Linked DNA regions of Homo sapiens: region 2 is linked to region 1. The links come from fine-mapping of genetic effects on gene expression. A gene starts in region 1. The other region holds a variant in brackets. All regions are shown on one strand. Distances are between the middles of the regions. Region 1 holds the start of SPAG16 (sperm associated antigen 16). Region 2 overlaps SPAG16 (sperm associated antigen 16).

Evidence for each region.
Region 2: its variant is fine-mapped to the expression of SPAG16 in iPS cells (HipSci, PIP 0.93).

What each region holds. Positions count from the first base shown.
Region 1 is chr2:213,283,069-213,285,990 of GRCh38, reverse strand. SPAG16 (sperm associated antigen 16) reads right to left here and starts at 1,527. Exons shown (of 16, transcript NM_024532.5): 1 at 1,372-1,527. The coding sequence starts at 1,507. It overlaps SPAG16-DT (SPAG16 divergent transcript), which reads left to right and starts at 1,782. Exons shown (of 3, transcript NR_161186.1): 1 at 1,782-1,958. RefSeq lists enhancers at 1,125-1,204, 1,275-1,324, 1,365-1,494.
Region 2 is chr2:213,740,538-213,743,459 of GRCh38, reverse strand. All of the region lies in intron 10 of SPAG16 (sperm associated antigen 16), which reads right to left. Among named protein-coding and RNA genes, the nearest start is that of MIR4438, 16 kb to the left of the region's middle. The variant T/G (reference allele first, on the strand shown) is at 1,847.

The DNA of each region.
Region 1 (2,922 bases):
CATGTTAACAATTAAACTATGTGTTCACGGAAATAATTTTAATGCAAACAAAATTACAAGATGCCTGGTTACCATTCAGTAGCAAGGGCACTGGATATAGATAAGCTTAGGAAGAATTATGAAAATCGTTGTTAAAGAGGAATATCACTGGAAAAGACTGCCTGTTACATCTACGAAAACAGTATAAAACCTCATTTATGACACTAAAGCACCCATATATTTCTTTCAAATTCATTTCAAGCGATTCAAATTTCTATTCCTGTAAAAGTCGTTTTTGCACCCAATAAAATACTACATATTTTCTTTAATCTTTCAGCTAAATTCTTCAAAGCTCTCTGTAGTGTGGATGTGTACTGAGCCTGAGTCAGGACAGGTTAATCGGCTTGTCAAAGCTCACGAAATGAATCATTGCTGGATTTCTGAAATCTTGAATTAAACCTGGAGAGGATTACAGTTGGACAAACAAATAAGATTTGGCAGATTTTGGAGTTTCCTTGGTATCTTTAAGAACTGAACAGATAATCATCTCTTTCTTACCTCCCTGAATAAAGGAGTTACATGTCTTTTTCTCATGAACCCTCCCCGTCTCCCTAGTAGGAATTAATCTATATAACTAGAGGAAAGAAGTTCTAAAGCCTTACACAAGAAATAGTGGACCTAATTATCCACACATTGTTATTCAATTTTTCTGGTACTTCCGATAAAAATCGCTAATCACCATCTGCTTTATTCCTAATATCTCTGAGCTGTGTAGCTCACCAGATCATTATTTATTTGCTCAAGAAAAAAAAGCAACTATACTATTAGTATTTATTATTAAGTAGTCAAACTTGGAACTACTCAGGAAGATAATGCTATCAAAACTAAGCATTTAAGCATTAACTGGACCATCGAACAGGATCGTGGGTTGGGTATTCTGAGCTTCAGCTCCTTAAAGTCCAATGGCAGAGGTCTTTCCCTAGTCTCCTAACGTTCCTCCGTTGAATTTATTGGGACGGCTTTCTGAAAGATTGAGGGCTTATTTAGGAAACCCATTATTTGAAAGGAGGGTTGAAGCAATTTGTTGTGCTGTCTTAACATAAAAAGCAACCCTCCATCCAAAATGTACTGAGTGGTTACTAAGTATGAGGCCTTGGAAGGTCTCCCAACTCTTCTAACAGGTACAGGACACCCTGGGCTACTAAGGGCGAGAAATTCAGTGAGTGGCTCTCAGGAAGACTGTGGTGGCAAAAACAGCACCTTGAAGTCCAACAGAGGCTCCTCCGGAGTGGCCCCAAGGCTCAAAAGGCGCCGCCAGTGGGAGGCCCTCGCCTTCGTCCCAACACCCATTACCCGCCAGCGCAGCGGGCCGCGCCTCCACGGGAAGGATACGTTCCAGGTAGTAGGCGCCCTCAGCCGCCACCGCGTCCGCCGTGTCCCTCGCGTCCCCGGCTGCCGTCAAACCCATGCCCAACGCCTCTTCCAGGACCCTCACGGCGGAGCTGGGCATCCCTCGCTGAGCAGCCATCTCTGGCGCTTCGGGCCCCCACCCCCAGCAGGCCCACAGCCGTCCCTAAGGGCAACAGCGAAGACGCTACCCAACGGCCCCCGGGAGCTCTCGCGAGATTCCGGCATCTCTCACCCCGCCCCACGGACCAGCCCCGGGCACGTAAGGGTTACCGGGAGTCCAGGGAGCTGTCGCCCTCCCGCGCCTCCCAGTTACCGTGGCAACGATGTTGCCTAGTTAACGCGAGAGCTCGGGCGCAGCTCTGGGAGCGGACAAGATACAGTAAACAATTGGCTTGCATTGCACCTTCCTACCCAAGCAGCTTGGTTTTCTTTCGCTTTGACCCTGTAATTTCTTTCCCACTTCGTTGTCGTCTCTGAATTACCTTTCTCTTGATTCTTGCCCATTAGCATCCTCCAATTTCAGATGTTTGTAGATCCCCAAGTGTTCCCAGGGAAAACTACTAGAAAAGGTGAGTTCTCAACACCTGGAATTTTTTAAAAAATGAAAAAATAAAGTTCTAGAAATCATAATAGAAAGACTGACCCAGGGGAGCTACCAGACGCTCCTCAGATGCTTAGCAATGAAGAACTATGGTGTTCAGCTTTGTCAATTCCTTTCTTGTGATCTTTAATGCATTTAGCTGGACATCTGTTTTGAGTTTGGTTCCATATACTAAGACTTGGAATAGTATTTGTAGCATTGATTCTCGCCAAGGTAAAAACAGTTGCATAAAAATTATGAGCTACAAATTTGGTCCTGACAAATGTATGCAGTTGACACTTGCCCCATCATGTATAGTCTTATTGCTGAGAGGATCTTCCTCAGGTTATATCGCGTATGTATCAGAAGCAAATTCAAGGCCCTTTTCTTTGCAAATATTTTTTTTTCCCTTAACTTTTATTTTAGGTTCAGGGGTACAAGTGCAGGTAAGCTCATGTCGCAGGGGTTTGGTATATAACTTATTTCGTCACCCAGGTACTAAGTGTAGTACCCAATAGTTATTTTTTCTGATCTTCTCCCTCCTCCCACTCTCCTCCTCAAGTAGGCCCCAGTGTCTGTTGTTCCTTCTTTGTGTCCATTTGTTCTCATTATTTAGCTCCCACTTACAACTAAGAACATGCAGTATTTGGTTTTCTGTTCCTGCATTAGTTTGCTAAGGATAATGGCCTCCAGCTGCATTCATGTCCCTGAGAGGACATGATCTCATTCTTCTGTGGCTGCATAGTATTCCATGGTATATGTGTACCACATTTTCTTTATCCAGTCCGTTGATGGGCATTTAGGTTGAATCCATGTCTTTATCATGAATATCAATGAACACGCATGTACATGTGTTTTTATGGTAGAACAATTTCTGTTTCTTTGGGTATATACCCAGTAATGGGATTGCTAGGGCAAATGGTATTATTTTTCATTCTACATTTCTTGGTGAA
Region 2 (2,922 bases), 460 kb before region 1:
AGCAAATCTTCACAAAGGGAACATAAAAGATATACTTTGGACAGAAGGAAGTTGATCTCAGGATGGAGTGTAAGACACTTAAGAATAAATTCATTCTTTCACTCAATAAATATATAATTGGTGCTTCCTATAGGGGCCAGGCATTGTTCTAAGCACTAGGAAAAAATCCATGAATGTCAGTGTATTCAGAACATACATTTTAGTTGGAAGAGGAGATACAATAAACACTAAAATAATTTTTTAAAAAACAACAATACAGCCGGGCGCGGTGGCTCACGCCTGTAATCCCAGCACTTTGGGAGGCTGACGCGGGTGGATCACGAGGTCAGGAGATAGAGACCATCCTCGCTAACACAGTGAAACCCTGTCTCTACCAAAAATACAAAAAATTAGCCGGGCGTGGTGGCGGGCGCCTGTAGTCCCAGCTACTCGGGAGGCTGAGGCAGGAGAATGGCGTGAACGCGGGAGGTGGAGCTCGCAGTGAGTGGAGATCTCACCACTGCACTCCAGCCTGGGCGACAGAGCGAGACTCCGTCTCAAAAAAACAACAATACGGCATGTTAAATACTGGCAAATTTGTAGAATTAAGAAATAAGCAGCCGAGCACGGTGGCTCACGCCTGTAATCCCAGCTACTCAGGATTACTTGGAAGGCCGAGACGGGTGGATCACCTGAGGTCAGGGGTTCAGGACCAGCCTGGCCAACATGGTGAAACGCTGTCTGTACTAAAAAATACAAAAATTAGCCAGGCGTGGTGGTGGGCGCCTGTAATCCCAGCTACTCGAGAAGCTGAGACTGGAGAATTGCTTGCACCCGGGAGGTGGAGGTTGCAGTGAGGCGAGATTGCGCCACGCACTCCAGCCTGGGCGACAAGACCGAAACTTCGTCTCAAAAAAAAAAAAAAAAAAAAAAGAAATAAGCAAAATAAGACAGGAGGGATCAAGAGTGTACCTGTAGAGGTATTTATAATTTTATGTGAGGTGATCAGTGGGTATGGTAAATACGTGAGTAAATTTATAAACTAGTAATTGAACAGAACAATAAGATAATGTCTTGTTAGTATCATAACAGAATGAAATTAAAATATACAATAGTAACATGTCAGTCAGAAGAGGTGCAAATGGACTATACTAATGTCCTTGTATTCTTGAAAGGGAAGACAAATGAATTTATTAATATTCAACTAGAAGTATATAAGACAGAATCTGTACTGTCTCCAAAATTAGTAAACAATCTGTAAGTTCCAAAATTCTTAGGGAAAAAATTTAATTGAAAATGCTTTTGTAATAAAAAGGAAACCAAGAAAAGAGAGTAAAAAAAAAATACTAAACACAGAACAGCAAGTACAAAACCAGATGGCAGATTTAAACCCAAACACATTGGTATTACATCAACTATAAATTGATTTAATGCTCCAATTAAAAACAAATGAGAACTAGATTAAAAAAACAAAACTATAAGCCACTTACAAAAGACTTCTACAACACAATTACACAGAAAGGTTGAAAAAAGAATGAAAAATAATAACCATGCACATATGAAGCCAAAGAAACCTAGTGTAACTCTATAAATATTAGACAAGAGAGTTCAAGGAAAAAAGAGAACAACTCAAAATGATACAGGTTTAATTCAACAGGTAGATATAACAATTGCAAATCCAATTTGAGTTAATAATATAATCTCTAAATTTATAAAGCTGAATTTACAATATACCTATCAAGCTATTTGGCACATATATAAAATGACTAATGTAATGTTTAGTCATTGTAAAATCCCTAAGATTTTACACTGCAATAAAAATGGCCTTCTTGGAAACATTCAATTTTAGTTTGCTATGAATTATTTT[T/G]TAAAATCTGAAATCAACATTATAATCTCTGCTTTCTTTTATCTGTACTTGATTAATATAACTTTGACTAAACTTTAATTTATCATCTCTGTGTATCATTTTATTTTACTCAGCGGTTTACTTTTTTTTCCTTAGTCTTTCAACAGGTAAGGTTAACTCATTTACAATTATGATCCTAACAGATATTTGCTTCTGGTTTTTGAAGGCAATGGAGCATACTCAGACTTGGGGAGGTAGAGAATACTGATTGGATTTAATTCAAATTCCAACATATAGGAGTCAGCATATCACCCAATCTGTCTGTCCTTAACTTCCTTTATTTTTGAAATGGAAATAATAACAATAATGTATTATTAAATATACTTATACATAGAAAATGTTTAAAGTGGTGCCTGTAGACATGCGCTTAACTAGTATTTTTTATTTTATTCAGATTTTTATCATATATTCTTACTTTACCCTTACCTTTAATAAAGATTAATAAGATTTCTCCTTAAGAAACATTTATTATATTTTAATTTCTTTTAGTTGTCACATTAACTAAAGTTATGAGGCGTTAAATTAATAGTTGAATAACTTAATGCTCAGCACCTGCTGTTTTAGCCCTAAAATTCCCCAAACTTTAAAAACTCACACTATGGCATGATATATTTTAAGGAAACATAGGTTGAAAGAACAGTTAATTTCTGTTTTAATCTGTTTGAAAGTGGTTTCTATTGCCTCAGCAGTCACTGATGGGGATGGTTAGAATGCTGTCAATAAATGATAGTGAAATGGGTTCCAAGTAATTGGTCTTTCTTTGTCCATAGCCCAGCTTCACCTTCACGCCCCATCTTTACCCCACACTCTTGGGTGTTCAGCCAACAGTTACCCTTTCTCTTCCTCTTACTGACTTTGCCACAGCCTCTCACTGAGGAGGTTAGTAAGTTACCCTTGTTATTTTCACTTTACACAGTGTATATGCCCTATAACTAGTAGAAGTCTGTGGCATATGATGCCTTGCTGATACGGGACTTCCCCCTGGAGTTTATTCATTTGCTCATTTCAGTAAGCATGATGAGAGTGAGGCAAATGAT